Linked DNA regions of Homo sapiens: region 2 is linked to region 1. The links come from fine-mapping of genetic effects on gene expression. Tissue or cell type: monocytes after LPS. Region 1 holds a variant in brackets; the other region holds the start of a gene. All regions are shown on one strand. Distances are between the middles of the regions.

Region 1 (8,387 bases):
CAGGCAATAAACCCAATTCCTTTTCTTAGGGGAAATGTTTGGAAATGCTGTACTCTCTTCCTGTTCCATGCCACACCTCTTTCCTCACTCCTAAGAATTTCATGGCTGACCTCCAGCCTCTTCCTGGTGAAGCCCCTTCTCCTCTTCAGACAACCCACATGGACAGACATGAATCAACTCCACATCAGCTCTCTTTGGAATGTGGGCCATCAAGTACATCAGAAACCTTCATGCTTCCTTTTACTTTCTTCCTCTTGAATCTGAAGCTCTAGAAGAACAGGCCAATCATGATGCAGTGCCAAATTGCTTTGCTCCTGTAGTCAGAGTGTCTCTCATTTTCACACTCCCCAGGCAGGAGTCAGAATACATCCCACCCTAATGCCCAAACTGCAGAGGACACACTTCTAGCTTTCTGAGTAGTGTCCCTGAAGCTCTTCTTTTTTGACCTGAGGGAAGGAGAGACTCATTCCACTAAAATCATCCCCCCAGTTCTCTCTTCTGTAACAGATGTGACGAATTGGTCCTCAGCACCAATTCCAACCTATTTTCTTGGGTGCTTTCCTTCATTGCAAAATTGAAAACAATTATTTTCAGATTATTTTGAATTTAGGATTCTAAATGCAAATAACGTTCTGCCAATTGAAGGTACTTGAGGCCAGGCATGGTGGCTCATGCCTGTAATCCCAGCACTTTGGGAGGCCGAGCGGGTGCATCACCTGAGGTCAGGAGTTCAAGATCAGCCTGGCCAACATGATGAAACTTCGTTCCTACTAAAAATACAAAAAATTAGCCGGACGTGGTGGCGGGCGCCTATAAGCCTAGCTACTCGGTAGGCTGAGGCAGGAGAATTGCTTGAACCCGGGAGGCAGAGGTTGCAGTGAGCCAGGATAGAACCACTGCACTCCAGCTTGGGCAACAAGAGTGAAACTCTGTCTCGAGGAAAAAAAAAAAAAAAAGGGTACTTGAACAAGATTTGAAAGGCAGACAGGGTTGGAGTTGGGGAAGTGGGTGGTCTTCCCACTGCATGCAACCCAGGGGAGAAGAGAGTATTTTTCCGCATCTATGATCCAGGGTCCAGCTTTTGTTCTACCTTCAAGTAGCAGCCCCGCTTCCTTTTAACTTCTCCCCACCTCAAACATCTCAGTCACCTAAACAAAATGGATTTCCACTCCCAAATCCTAGTAAGCCACAGATTTCAGGACCTTGAGAGAAAAAATACAGTTAAATGGAAGTCTTGAGTTTTCTTTTCCTTTACTGTGTTCAAACCAAATTACGCCATTTTGTATAATTATTTCATTACCTAGAGAACAGGCCCAAATTATGCCTCACAGACTATAGGTTTTGTAGACTGATTTTACCAAGTTATTTATTTCAAATCTGTTATAGTTGCTGCCAAGGAATTTTGATGTCATACGAAGTATACTGTGGAGAGGTTTTATACTTATGTCAATAAGTGAAGCCATTTCTCTGACGCTTTTTATTAATGGAGTTTCTATGAACTTGTTCCGTTTATAGCTGGCTATGGTGATGCATAAGCTATTAAAGCAGCAAGTCACACTAGCACGCTCACACACACACACGCACACACATCATCTTCATTCACTACATCCTCCCAAGGTAACCTGGGAGGGTTACCTATATCTTCCCAATATACCTTTAATAATACACACCTCCCACACAGACCCAATACTCCAGCCAATTTTAAGACAGTTGTACATAGACAGACCTGTTGCCCACATGGCAGCCTCTGCCAATCACGAAGAACAGGAGTTTGCTTGGCAGGAGAATCAGTCACCATCTCCGAGTTCCTATGCTTATGGCTGGTATGAGTGTTCTCTTCTGCTCAGATGTGAGGATTCAATGAAAAGTGCCTGTCAAATCTATGCATTTATGTGGAAATGAGACATTGTTCTGTAATGTCAGTGTGTGTTTTGAGGACGACATTGCCTGTAAGACACTCAATTCTCATTATTTTAAGAAAGCAGTGATCTAACTAGGAGATATTTTTATGTATGCATCTTTAGATTTACACCACCTTTCTTCCTGAGGCCCACGACCACCAGCCTTATAGAAGCCACCGTCATCTCTCACTGGACTACCGCTTTGTTTCCTAACTGGTCTTCCTGCTTCCATGTGAACCCCATTACAATGTTCTCCACATCAAATATTGAACAGTCACTTAAAAATGCAAATCAGTTCCAGTCCCGACCTGGTTTATGAACCCCTCAGTGGCTTTCCACTGCACTTTAAATAAAATAGAACTTGGCGCTGGGTGTTGTCCTCCCTGTACCCCAGCCAGCCCGGCTGAGCCACGCTTCTGAGACTGCGCCAAGTTCATCCTACGCAGCCTCTGCCTTGCTCTCCTCTGCCTGAGGCATCGCCTCTCCAGGTCCTCCCTAAACTGACTCCTTCTCTTTCTTCAATTCAGTCTCCTCAGCGGGGCCTCCCCTGACCAACTACCAAAGCTAACTTCTCCTTATTCTCCTTACAGCTTCCTATTCACTTTTCTTTTAACACATATTATCTATCTATAATTATGTGTTTATTGTCTACCTCCCCTACTTGACTGAAAATTACATATGGGTGTGGACCATTGCCACTTGTATCCCAAACACCTTGTTCAAGCATCCACTGATACCCCGAGAGGTCTGGGAGCCCAGGTTCCCAACTCCTACCATACCATCGGTGTGTTATCACCTGCAAAATTTTCTTTAACATTCTTGTTAACATCATCAACATAATTTTACTGAACAATTTGCCAATACCCTAAAATTTGTTAACTTTTCCAATAAAAATCTAATAAGAAAAGCTTTTAAGTCAGCAACAAGGAAGCCAGGATGTAGAAAACAGCCAGCTTTGACAGAAGAGTGTGGCTTAGGTGAGCATTTCATCAGTTTGAAGGTGCTATAGCCGATTTTTGTGGTAAGCTGAAGATCAGAGTGCAGTTCCACAGGACAGGATGCAAAAGCATGACTCTGCTGTCTCAACTCAGATGTTTTTACAATGACCTCATCATTTTATTTGAAACAATGAGAATTCCAGGATCATTGGAACATCCGTACTCAAAAATCATAAAGAAAATATGTTAACCTTTTCTTCAACTCTTCATGTCAATGTCTCCTTCCATTCGTATACATAACCAGTATGATTTATTGTAACACATAAATAAACTATTAAAATAACCAGTTTAAATTTTCTTAGTTTTTAACAATAAAATTATTTATACATTAGTGAAGATTTAGTCAAAGTCACAGCTAAAAATTATTGTGATTTTATGGAGACATATTTGAAATATAGAAAATTAGACATGAAGCTATTAAAAGACATATTTTACAATGGCTACATAGTTACACAGCTTTGGGGGAAAAACCAGATATGTTTATCACCAATAAAAAAAACAGAAGGCTAATTAAGACAAGAGCCTATTGTGAATCTCATTTAACTAATCAATTGAATTGACACGTTTATTGAGCTTCTACTATGACCTTAGGAAGTGTAAGACATGGTTCCAGCTCACAAGAAGCTTAAGTTCAGGGGGGAAAAGGGAGCACAGCGGCTATTATATTGTACATTTATTACATTAGTAAGTGTCTTCTTACATTTATGAGGTGCTTACCAGTTCCAAGTTCTCTGCTAAGACTTTTTGCATGCACTATTTCATTTTATTCTCACAACAGCATCATGGACTTTAACTACATAGCAATTTAACTTTTAAGACAACTAAGGCTCAGAGCAATTCATTGGCTGTCTACTGACATACAGCTAGTGAGTGGCTGAGTTAGAATTCCACCCAGATCTGCCTGATTCAAAGGTTCAGAGCTCTTTCTACCATCAAAAATGTGCTGTGGTGAGGCTTTCCCCAGGTAGGAATGCAAAAATAAGACCAGATAATAAAATGAAAATGTGAACTTCATGAGGGCTAGACCATGTTCATTTTGTTTCTCATTTTATTTCCCAAACCCAGGACAGTACCTGCACTGATTAGTATTTTTTGAATGAATG[G/A]CATCTGACAATTAAGCTTTGAAAGCAACAGATTTTAACTCAGAGCAGAGAGGCACTGAGGGGAGCTGAAAAAGACAACTCCCAGTTATATAAAATCTGGGAGAGCTGACTGAACATATTGTCATATTAGAATAAAGATTTAAAGCAGTCTTCAGAGAGGCTGGTTAGCCTTGAAAACATAGAAAAGGAGAGTGAAACTATAGAGGTGAAAGCTGATCTTTTTACATCCAGTTTATTTTTCCCAAATTTACCAAGGAGAGAAGCTACTGCGTCTTCCTGGGGGCTGAAAGAGAAGAATTGAGTGAAAGGGGAAGAGGAAGAAAGGCCAGGCCATTATAGCAACTGATCTTCACCCACAAAGAGGGAAGCAGCAGGCAGGAAAGAAGCACCCCCATGTAAACTAGGCAATAAAGCCCCATGAGTGTGACAGGACTATCTGAGAGTTGGGACACCCAGGAGATCAACCAAGGAGAACTCAAGGCAATGGGTTGGAATGTTATAGGACTTTAGTTGGAGAGATGCATGAACAGAATAGCACAGACTAGAACATAGAAAAATGAAACCGTGTGTGTGTGTGTGTGTGTGTGTGTGAGAGAGAGAGAGAGAGAGAGAGACAGGGAGAGACACAGAGAGAGAGAGAGAGATCTGTTAGGGTGACCTAAGCATTGACACTGTGGAGCCAATTTCCCTTGGTTTGTACTTCTAATAAATTGTCTCACCCTACCCCCACCACTGCCCACCCCCTCACCAGTAATTGTATATTTTTCATCATACATGAAAAGAATCAGCATTCTGGTTTGTATATATCAGTCTCTGTGGCCTTGGTTAACATACATAATCCCCAAGCAGAGAGACCCTTCATCTGTATATAGGACAAATAAAGTCCTATGTCTGGATGGCTGACACAATACCTTGAACCCTTGTGAATTCCTACAGGATAAATGCCACTTGGAATGGCCTCCTGACAGCCAACCAGTGCTCTCCTGTGCTACAGTATACCCCCCTGTACTACAGTGGGGCCAATGTTTCCTTCTGAACTGACATTATCAAAGAGTACATAACCGCAAGAAAATACATTTCAGTCCTAAGAAGAGATCATCAACTGCACAAATACAACACAGAGGTTATGGTACAGTGTATGATGGGGAGTGGGGAGGGAGGAAAGAGAGGAGAAGAACTGATATGCATTCGATTTCTAGCTTGTTTTTAAGAAGTCTTACATACTTACCTTACACAGACAATAACCAGAGAACTAGAGGCTTGGTAAGCGTAAGTCAATTGACCAGAAGTCACTCAACTAGTAACTCTCAGGGATTTCAAACCCAACTAGTAACTCTCAGAGATTTTTAAACTCTCAGGTATCCAAATGCAGGCCTGTCTAGTTCAAGGGTAATAATAACAACGAGTACATAATTAGTATAAAAATAAATGGAAAAGACCCTTGTAGTAAGACTTATAAATTAGAATGCACAGTTACCTAAGAGACACTGCTCTCTCTCTAGTTCTTTTTAAAATATTCAATAGAAGACCAGGTGCAGTGGCTCACACCTGTAATCCCAGCACTTTGGGAGGCCGAGGCAGGTGGATCATCTGAGGTCAGGAGTTCAAAACCAAACTGACCAACATGGTGAAACCCGGTCTCTACTAAAAATACAAAAATTAGCCAGGCAAGGTGGCACGCGCCTGTAATCCCAGCTCCTTGGGAGGCTGAGGTAAGAGAATCACTTGAACCTGGGAGACGGAAGTTGCAGTGAGCCAAGATTGCGCCACTGCACTCCAGTCTGGGCCACAGAGTGAGACTCCATCTCAAAAAAATAAATAAATAAAAAATAGAAGAATACTCAATAGAAGTATGCTGTTTGGACTTCATTTTTGTGAAGGCAAAGAAAAATAAGTGAAACGAGAAACTATATAAAAACAAACTGTGGCATCTAATTCCTCCCCCTGCCCCTGTTCCATCCACGGAGTGTGTTTGCGCAACCGGTATATAGAAATGTTCGGAGAAGTGATGGAAACTTTATAGTAATTTATATGAATTGGTTTTTCACTTGTGGATTTTATAAGCAGATTAAATTCCACATTCAAATCGCTGCACTGCAACTTATTAAATATTCACTTTTCAAAATAAGTTGATGCATTATTTACAGCAGAGCAGATTCAATATTTAAATTGTTTTCTCAAAGAGTTCCTGACTAGAGCATGTAACCAGCACCTTCCTCCCGGACCAGGCGATGAGATGAAATGAGTCTTATTTGGTGCAAATCCTAAGAACAAAGGCCTAACCTGAACTGGAAAGCCAGCTTTGGTTAATGCCAAATTCCAGGCTGCATCCACTTCTGGACCTCTGACTTGCCTTCTTCTTGGCCTCACACAGCATCTTGTCCCTCATCAGCGTTTCTCTCACTAAAGGCATCTGGCTTCTTGGGGTGGAATCATCTGGGATGAGTTTTCAAAATGCATTGGCATTGAAAACAATGGTTTTTAAACCTCAGGGTTGAGAATCACTGCTCTAACCAAGGTAGTGCCTAGTAAGAAAGCCTTCTTAAGCCTTATCCTAGACTCAGAGTTCAGACTTTGTCTTGTGAGCTCTGGGAGACACCAAAAGGGTTAAAGCAGAGAAAGGACATGTTCACATTTTGCACTTTAAGAGTAGTGTAGCTGCAATGTGGAGAATAGAACACTCGGGAAAAGGAGACCAGGTGAGGCAGTGGTCTAGGCGAGAGAGGACGTGGACCCAAGGTAGAGCAGTGGCCATGGAAGGATTTGAGAGGCACTTAGGAAAGATAATCGATGGAGCCCAGAGCCTCATTGCATGGAGGGTGGGGAGGTCAGCAGGTGACAGAGAGGAAGAAAATAAAGAAGAACTTGCTGTGTTTAGGGTGGAATGTGCTAACATGAACGCTACTTGTTATTGCGAGACTCAGATTATAACCTCAATATTCTGATACCTAAGGTTTTACAAATATACTCTGTTTTCCTAAAATCAATTAAGTGGTTGAGTTTTGATTTATTTTATAGTTAACAAAAGGACATTCTTTGAAGTTCTTTTTGGTATGGGGTGCTAAATAATATAGAGTAAATTAAAACAATGTATCTAGGATCCTAGTAAAGTTATTTCTCTTTAGCTTCTCTGAGAAGCTGGGCAATGAACCAAAGCCTGGGCTTTCATTCCGTAGCACTGAAAATACTCAAGTCTCCTAACCTCAAATTTGGAAGTAAGCTCTGTCTTTTTAAATCACTGGCAAGTCACCTCCTCCTTTTCCTCTCTATCTCACTCCCTCTATCCTAGATTTTTCAGGCTTTATTTGGAGATTGTGAGTCCACAGATGGGTGCTGTCTAACTGGAACTGGAGAAATTTACAGACGACAGAATGTAGCAATAGTTGTAGGACAAGAGGCAAAAATCTGATCTTCTGATCTCTTTATTTTTCAGTTGTTGTCTGTATAGTTGCAGTGTTCTTTTTTCCTAATCATAAAATAATTACAATGTATTATTATTAGGAATTCAAACAATTCAGGAAAGTATGATACAGAAAGTGAAAATACCCTGACACCTCAACCTCAGGAACATCCATGTTAACAGTTTGGTGTATACCCTTCCAGATTCCTGCAGTAACATAGGATTAAGGTGAGGAATTAGGCAGGCACCGAGCAGGAGGTCAGGGCTCCAGGCAGATGGAGAGCACGTGTTCTTAAGAGAATGCATGACACATCAGGGAAGCTGGAGGTTCCCTATGGCGCTGGTATCCGAAGTGTGAGGTGGGCGTGGCGAGATGCAAGGAATGGAGGTTGGCAAGGACCCTTTAGAATGTGTGTGCACACGTGTACACCTTTTAAGAATATCAGATCATACTATGCATTGTCTTCTAAAACTTGTTTTTCTACATGGAAATCTTCCCACATCAGTGCATTTAGGTATAATTCACCCTTTAAAAAAGGGATATATAGTACTCTATTATTTGGATGGACAAAGTTTTTTTAACTAACCCACTACCAATGTGAGTAACTTCTAGTTTTTGCTATTAAGAGCAAATCAACATTATTAAGTAAATGCCCACAGAAGAATATCTCAAGGCTGAACTTCCAGGATTGATATTGCTAGGTCAATGGCTATGCCTATTTAAAATTTTATATTACCTACTGTATATAGGATTGGCTAATTCCTTACACCCTTACCAGCACTGGATGCCATTTATTTATTTGTTGTCACTCTTATGGGCAAAAAACAAAAGGTCATTTTAAATGTTATTTTAATGACCATTGCAGTTGAACACCTTTTCATATCTTTCTTGCCTACAGGTATTTATTCTGTGAATTACTAGTCCATGCCTTTTCTATCTGATCATTTTATTTTATTTATTTATTTAATTTATTTTGGGACAGAG
Region 2 (8,387 bases), 430 kb before region 1:
ACTAATAAATGGCACAAAAGTCCTTCATGGTTTGCTAGCTCTCTCATCATTTCCTAGTTCTGCTATGCTCCAGTCAAAATATATATTTAATTTCATTAAATATTTTTCAAAAACACAATTTCAAATGGTAGCATAATAATCAATAGTTCTGTACTTTTATATTCTTATCTTTAAAATCTTGTTGGATACCACCTATTCCTAATAATTTATTTGCATTTATTTAGTATATTCATGATTTGCTGAAATACTTCTCTTCCTTAATTCCTTTCTTAGTAAAAACAAAAGTGGTGGAATCTTATCCTTCCTAGCATTAACTTTTTCATTTGTGGTAGAAACATATGCATCTAGGATAAAGGGGCTCCACTAATAAATTATTTTACTAATGGCTTCGGAGTCATCTATAAAATGCAACTCAAATATGAATTTTTCTCTAATTTTCAGTATAAATTTAACTTCCTACACCTTGTAGGCAGTTCTATTCTCCTTATGTGAAACACATATTTTTTTGCTTGTTTCCCCAGTAAAACCTTCATTTACTTTACCAGGAGTTTTACTAAACGTATATTTCAATTTTAGCACTTACGGGCCTTTTCATTTCTCTTATTCCCCAAATTTAATCAAATTTGAGATTTCTTTGGTTTTCTCTCACCTATTTGTGTTAAGATCATTAAGAATTGCACCCACAGATATTTGGTGCATTCACTTTAGAACCCGGTTTTATATAGTTGTTACCAATTATATCTCATCCAGGTAAAGATTTTCTTTTTCTAAAATGTGGAAAGTTAAGCCCTGTCTTGTTTAACTTTGCAACTTACCCATTCATTATTCCCAGCTCAGTTTAGCTATCTTAAAAATGTGGTCTGTGATCTATAGTTAGTTATAGTATAAAATTCTGAATATGTATATGATATAAAAGTATACAAATAAAACAGCATGATGAGCTTTGCAGTCAAGCAGATCTAGATTCAGATTCAGGCTCGAACGCTCTGAGCCCTTGGACAAAGTACTTACCTATTTACACTTTGTTTTCTCATCAGTAAAATAGAAGTAACTTCCATGTATAACACAGAGCCAACATAATAAATGAGAAAAATGTACATGAAAGTGACAATGTATGTTAAATGCCTACAAATGATGTCTAGTACATTACAAGGAAAACGTTAATCCACTCTCTATTCCTCCAATCCCAAAGCAACAGGAACAATACTGTGTAGTCTCAATTTATTATATTAATAAGTTCATTATTAAATTCCCTTAAGTAAAAGCAATTTGCAGTATGGACCATGAGCTTTGGATGTTTACTTTGACTCAGTATTTTTGCTTTGGGGACTCTAAATAATCCAGAATGCAGAAATTGATTTTTGTATGAGGATGTTCATTGCAGTGTTTCTTATAACTGCAAAAAAATTAGAAACTGTTTAATAATGAGAAATCCACACAAACATGCAAACATTAAATATGGTGACAAAATAATTAAGTAGCATAAGAAAATGCTTATGGTGAGAATACAAAATTACTCACATAGTAAAGTCTCAACTGTGAAAAAAATCCAATAAACTCAGAAAAAAACATTGGAAGGAAATGCGCAAAAGGGCTTACAGTAGTTACTACGTAGTACTGATATTTGTAATTTTTATTTTATGGTTTTCTATAGTTTTCTGAAATAATTAACAGTGATAATGACATTGATGATAACAGCAGTTATTATTTATAGAAAAGTTAATACATGTCAGGCCCAGTTTTAAGAGCTTAGTGTATTAACTCATTTAATCCTCATAACATAAGATGAAAAAGTGAGATTAAATAACTTGCCCAAGGTCACACAGATAATTACAGAAGGTGCCAAAATCTGAATCCAAATAGTGTGGCTCCAAAGCGCCTGTTCTCTACACTACATTGAAAAGTTTTGCTTTGTTTTAAAAATTTAACCATTAAAAAGGCATATATCAATCCCAACTTTATGGTCTCACGGTTATCAGCTTTTTTTCAGTACTGAGTTGTAATATTCGCTCTGGCATGGAGTGTCTTTTTGGATTAAGATGTAGCCACTATTCCTATATGTATTCTATCTACTCCAGAAAATTCCAGGACAAATCCACCTCCCTATTTCCCATTTCAATATCTCATTTGACCATTCAGACTCTAGAACTCTAATATTCCTACTTACTACAGCAACTTACAGTACTTCAAAGGACCCTTCAAAGCAACCCAATCAAACTTGCTTTTGAAAACCTCTCCTAACTAACATCCACGCATACAACTACAAATCAGTTACCACTTGCTGTGGTTTGAATATGGTGTGTCTGTCTCCATCAAAATTCATGTTGAAATCTGATCATGATCTGGTGGACATGATTTAGTTCCCTGAGGGTGAGTTGTTAGAAAGCCAGGCCCTTCCCTCAGATTTCCCCCTCTTTGCCTGGGGTGGCTTCCCCTTTGACCTTCTCTAGCAGGTTATGATGCAGCACAACAAGCTGACCAGATGGCGGCGCCTTGCTTCTTATACTTCCCAGCCTGCAGAACCGTGAGCTAAATAATAAACCTCTTCTCTTTATAAATGACCCAGTCTCAGGTATTCTTTTACAGCAACACAATACGGATTAAGGCACCACTCTTGCAAACATCTGTCTTCCATTGTGAAGCTCATCCCTTGTACAACCCAGAAGACTCCTTCACCTGCCAACACTCAACAGATTTACCATGGCAATGGCTGAATAGGGTCAACTAAGAAAAATCCTCAACCTCCAGGGGAATTTCACTGTTTCTGATCCTTCCTCTTTGAGGATGGCATTGTTCGCCATTGTTTTTGAAAACCTCATCAGTTTCTTTGATTCTCTCAGCTTTCTCATCCTTTTGCTGGTAAACCAAACTGTTTTGAGGGGGGAAGATATCTTTTTAGCACCAATATGTATTCAAATATCAATCTCAGGAAAAAATATCACAATTTATACCCTGGCCAATAAAAAGAACTCCCCCACTTACTGCTGTGCTCCTCTCTGCAGTTTATATTTGATAAATTCATTTATTTCATTACCTATGTCACTTGGTTTGACGTCACTTTATAACCAGGTTTCTTTTCTTAAAAAAACATTTGCAGAATCCAACATGGTTAAAATTCAAGAAATTCTTCTAAATACAGATGTTTACATTTCAATGTAGTAGCTCATTTACAACATTTAGAAAAACTGAGTTCATGGAATGGCTTTAAAATTATAAATAAGCAAAACTACAGTCATAAAAACAATGAATACAATAAGAAATGTTGATATTGGAAAAGCTTACAACTAGAATCATGTATTTTTACAAAAATCTTATTCTGCTCACATTATATAATGGTAATAAAGCCACTGAGAGTTGAGGTAGAAGTGCAAACAAGATTTTTATAGATATTTCAGTGGGAGGAATTTAATAATTCCTGACTAGGAGAAAGATGCAGCCACATCAAGGGTGGCGGCCCCTTTTAGGAAAAAGAAAACAGAACACTAGTACTTCATTAGGCTCACGTTAAATTGCATGAAGTAAAAATCGTACTGCCAAGCTAGTATAAATTTATGCACTGCATAGCTAGAGACTAAAAAAGATATCTGCACCTACAAACTATTGTTTCCCTTTTGTGGTTGCTAATTTTCATCCTGGCACAGCCTTCTCTAGGAACAACTACGGTGCCAGGTAAGGTGAAAGTGGAAAACAGATCCTTTCCCAAAAAACGGAACTTTCCCCTTTTCCACTAAACATAGCTTCTTCACCACTCTAACATGAAAGCTTTGATATAACAGGGAAACTTAAAAAGCTGCAGGAACTTTTGTTATTCTAAAAGTGAGTAGTACGTCAGGACAGCCATTTTACAACCTTCATTTCCAAACACCTATTACACCATACATCTTGCAATTTTAAAAGTATCTTTTCTTTAGGGTAAAAAAAGTACCACTTACACATTCATCATTTAAGTCATTACTGTTTCAAAGGACAGTTATTAAGCTTCTTAATACAGCTGTCAAAATCAATTTGTAGATAGCCTCCAATTTCAAATTTCTACATTTACATCTACTGATAGACCATCCTGATTAGCGATTAAGATAACAGACTTAAACTCTAAGCAATCCTTGCAAAATCCAGTTGATTTTTAAAATCAGTAAGCAACACGCGATCATTTTTAAAGAAAGTCATTCCGAAAATAGCTTGATTGTGGTGGCCAATCTGCTCCTCAGCAGCTGTTCCCTGTTGCTTGTACGCATGGGAGTGGAGGTAGAAGGGCAAAACCCACAAGCCCACGCAAAACTCGTACAGTCACAAACATTATGTAAACATGTCGTGAGGCCAAGAGGCCCCAAGGAGAAAGAACCGCCGGGAGGAAGAGAACGGCAAGCTGCATGTAAGGACGATGGGCGCTGTGTGCGGACGCAGGAGACCCGGGCAGAGGGGCCCAGGGCGGGACAAAGACTGGCCCATCTCGGGCAGCGCCGGCCAGCGCCCAGAACCAGTGAAAGGCAGCCGTCCCGGGGCAGCCGACTGCAGCACTCAAGGGCCCTCAAACGCCACAGCTTAACAGGCGAGGCAAACGCTCCCCTGAATGTAAGACCCTTCCCTTCCCGCCCCTTGTAACGGGCTCCTGCCGCCCCTAACGGGATCCTCGGACGCTTGAGGAGCCGCCGTCGCCTGCTCCCTACCCGGGTCCCGCAGGGCGCCTGGGCGGGCAGCTGTTGGGGTTAGAACCGCGCCGCCGCTGCCTCTCGGCTTCAAACGGCCGGGCAGGCGCCGAGAGAGCGGGCGAGCCCGGCGTCTCTCCCGTAGGCGCGTCAGGCAGCTCGGCGCTCCCAGCCTCCGTTCCCGCCCCTGCAGTTCGGGGCCGCGCACCCTCACGCCACCTACCCGGTCCCACACCATCCCAGACGCCTCGGGCGCTCGGGCCTTCGGCCGAAGCGGCACTGCCTCCTGTCCGGGGCCTGAAATGGCTGCGGAACAAAGAGAATCTGGGCTTCACCGAGCGCCGGTCCGATTGGCCGGGGGGCGGAGCCCGCGGCGGGAACATTCGGCGGCGGTCGCCTTGGCAACGGCGGCGGGGCTAGGAAAATTGCTGCCTGGGTCGGCTGGGCCTGTGGGCCTGCGTCCGACAGCGCGCGGCCGTGCTTTCTAAGCGGGCTCGGCAGCACCAGACTTCACCGGCCCGGCGCGGGGCTCACAAGTGCTCGCACTCCCTGCGGCCGGCGCGCTGACCGGAGCCTCTGGGTCTCGCACGCAGCAGCTGCAGACGCTGCCCGGCGCGGTGGGGCTGTGAGCAAAACGGCCCGCCGGTGTGGTTGCCCAGACTGTGCTGGGCCCTCCTAGGTGGATGGCCCTGCCCCAGCCTAACTTCTGTACCCCAGCATAACCTCCAAAGTAACAGCCGTGCCCTGGGAGCCTGTTCAACACTGAACATATCCCACAATAACACTGTTCCAGCGTCGCTGGTAAAAAGCAGAAATGGCTTCGGTAGGTAGACGCCGGTGGATGGCTGCCCGCTTAGAACAAGATAGGCTTTTGACGTATGTTGTATCTGGCGTATAAACTACTATGTAATTAGAATTCAGTGATTTATAAAATGTTTACGCCTCCAGGTGTTCAATCCTATAAAACTGTAGTTTCTTGCTCTTAGAAATAACAAGCCTTTCTCTCCCTAACCTGCCATCATGAGAAATTAAAATGTCCTGTATTTTCTGTACGGCAAATGATTCAAAATGGGAGTGGTGGACGTTTTTATACCCAACTGCAACAAGGGTAATGAGATAAATATCAGTTTCCTTCCCTCAGATTATTCTTATATGTAAAATTTACTGTATAAAAATACTTAAAATTTGCATAGCTAGCTGATTTTTATTTTCTAAGGTGATGATGCCCGTGATAATATTCCTCACATGATCAGTGTGAGTAGAAATACCAGCAGTTCCGACTATCTTACTGGAAGTGCTGTATATATTTTGAAAATGTGTGACAGTTGTTGCCTTCCTGTCATAGTTTAGGTAAAATTACAGTACATAATACTAGAAAATGTCTAAATTTTTACTAAGGTAATTTATTTGTTCTTCTAAACGTGTTAACAATTTTCATTTGAATTACAGTCATTTTGCAGGAACAACTAGTTTATTTAACTTAAAATTTGAGACTAAAAGTACCATTTTTTAATCATTGGGAAATTGAACTTAGCAAGGGAAAATATAGATAACTAAAATATTCATGATTTCAACATGTTATAATATTAATTTGATAGTAATTGGATACAGTAGTGTATATCAAAAAGAGCCCCCCCCCCCAAATAGGAGTAGATTACCAAGAAAAAAATGTAATATAAACTTTTCTGAATGGTAGTTTATCTGCAGGAAAATATACCCAGAAAAAGTATATTTATCCAAATAACAAATGGCTTATTTCTGCATTTGAAAAGTTACATCGTGGACTAGGATCTATACAAATCAGAAGATGTGTAGTATTTGCATTCTACTTTGCTAAAGGAAAAAACACAAATATTTCTAAAATCCAAAAGATTAGCAAATAATGACAGATGTAAATACTACTGACTAAGCAATTAGTAGGAGTTCACTTGATTAATAGTTTGGAAATAGCTGAAATGAATTGAAGAAAAAGTAACATATTATTTAGCATAAGAGGATTTATTGGCCAAAACATTTTGAAAGAAAAAAATGTTGATTATCAGATGTTGTAAAATTGAGATTAAGCAAATTAAATATGTATTCTTTTGTAAAAATTAAAGTGAATGAAAATACTAATATAAAATAGTTCTGTTGAATAGAGATTCTTACACATGTAGCCTTTTTGTCTCTTCTAGGTCAAATTAAAAAAACATGTTTTAAACAGTAAATCTTATTAACAAGGATTTATTAACATGGCTTATTTTATTTTTCTTTGACAGTTTGCACATATAATAGCAGCTATCCAGTAGTATTTTCTCTTTATACCTAAATATGCTCATGTGGTAAAACTTTGAAGAATTATTAATAATTTTTAAATGACAAAAATGAAGTTAAAATTTATAAACTTTGTTTTTACCTTTAAAACATAGATATATTTAAAATTTCTGTATTAATTTTATTTTCTTAGGTGAAAAATTTACCAAGATAAAAATAAAAACATGTTAGAAGTTACAAAATAGCATCTGAGGGAGAAAACATACCTATAAGCTTTCACCTAGGAATGACAAGATGCTTATTTTGTCAGGTGTAGCATTGTTAAAACAAGTGTGGAGCTTGCAGGCAGAGGACCTATATGCAGATGCTGGCTTTACCATTTATGAATGCTTTTGGCTCAGTCTTTCTGAGCTTCACTTTCTTTTGTCTGAAACAAGATTAAGTAAGATAAGTTACATAAAGAACTCATTAGCAGAGTGCAGGGCAGGTTGTTAGAGGGCAATGAATGAAAGTATTACTAGACATTAATATAAATCAAAGATGTTTGAGAAGGAGGAATATTATTGAAAAAGTAAGTCTGGAAATTCAAAAATTGTTAAATAAATGTCTTTAATAGGCAATTGTTGGTGAGTATATGGAAACCTAGTAAGATAAGTAATTTTTTATATACAGGCAAGCTTCTAAAATAGAATAAGCCTGGGCGCAGTGGCTCACGCCTGTAATCCCAGCACTTTGGGAGGCCGAGATGGGCGGATTACCTGAGGTCAGGAGTTTGAGGCCAGCCTGGCCAACATGGTGAAACCTCGTCTCTACTAAAAATACAAAAATTAGCTGGGCATGGTGGCGGGCACCTGTAATTCTAGCTACTCAGCAGGCTGAGGCAGGAGAATTGCTTGAACCTGGGAGGCAGAGGTTGCGGTGAGCCAAGATCAGGCCATTCATTTGCACTCCAGCCTGGGTGACAGAGGAAGACTTCGTCTCAAAAATAAATGAAAAAATAAAAATAAACAAATAAAATAGAATAGGATCTTCTAAAATATTGTCACCATTTATACTTCTGGAAGACAATTATTTCACATTAGGTAGTTTAAAGAATTGCCTTACACTGAAACATCTTCAGGTTGACATTATGAAAAAAAGTTTCAGTAATTATTTGGAAGAATTTAATTAAAATATTGAAGAGGACAATTGTAGTCAATATTCAGAAATGTGTAAATAATCTACAGGCATTTCTCATTTAAAGTAAACCCAATATATAAAGTTTGAATTCTTAAAAATATAAATTAGGGAGTTATTAACTGGGAAAAATTAACTTCAAATCTCCTTTAAGTATTAATATGTCCTAGTGATTATAATATGATTCTGCTTATAAAAAGGTCTACTTAGATTTCCACTTTTGGGAAGTTGGAATAGATATGCTTGTCCCTATTCCTCCCACTAAGTATAATTAAAACTTCTGAACATTATGTATAAAACAAACATAAAGGT

Alleles and levels. Positions count from the first base shown, and alleles are read on the strand shown. Sizes are in standard deviations (SD) of each study's normalised expression.
In carriers of allele G in region 1, the expression in monocytes after LPS of the gene that starts at base 4,961 in region 2 tends to be higher than with A alone (moderate effect, 0.46 SD a copy in Fairfax 2014).

The links. PIP is the estimated chance that this variant, and not a neighbour inherited with it, causes the effect.
Region 2: TNPO1 starts here. The variant in region 1 is fine-mapped to the expression of TNPO1 in monocytes after LPS (Fairfax 2014, PIP 0.90).

What each region holds. Positions count from the first base shown.
Region 1 is chr5:72,382,800-72,391,186 of GRCh38, reverse strand. No RefSeq gene overlaps it. Among named protein-coding and RNA genes, the nearest start is that of PTCD2, 67 kb to the right of the region's middle. The variant G/A (reference allele first, on the strand shown) is at 4,003.
Region 2 is chr5:72,813,235-72,821,621 of GRCh38, reverse strand. It overlaps TNPO1 (transportin 1), which reads right to left and starts at 4,961. Exons shown (of 25, transcript NM_002270.4): 1 at 4,870-4,961. The coding sequence starts at 4,884. It overlaps TNPO1-DT (TNPO1 divergent transcript), which reads left to right and starts at 5,074. Exons shown (of 9, transcript NR_186518.1): 1 at 5,074-5,469. RefSeq lists enhancers at 4,185-4,234, 5,315-5,394 and silencers at 4,695-4,914, 4,955-5,054.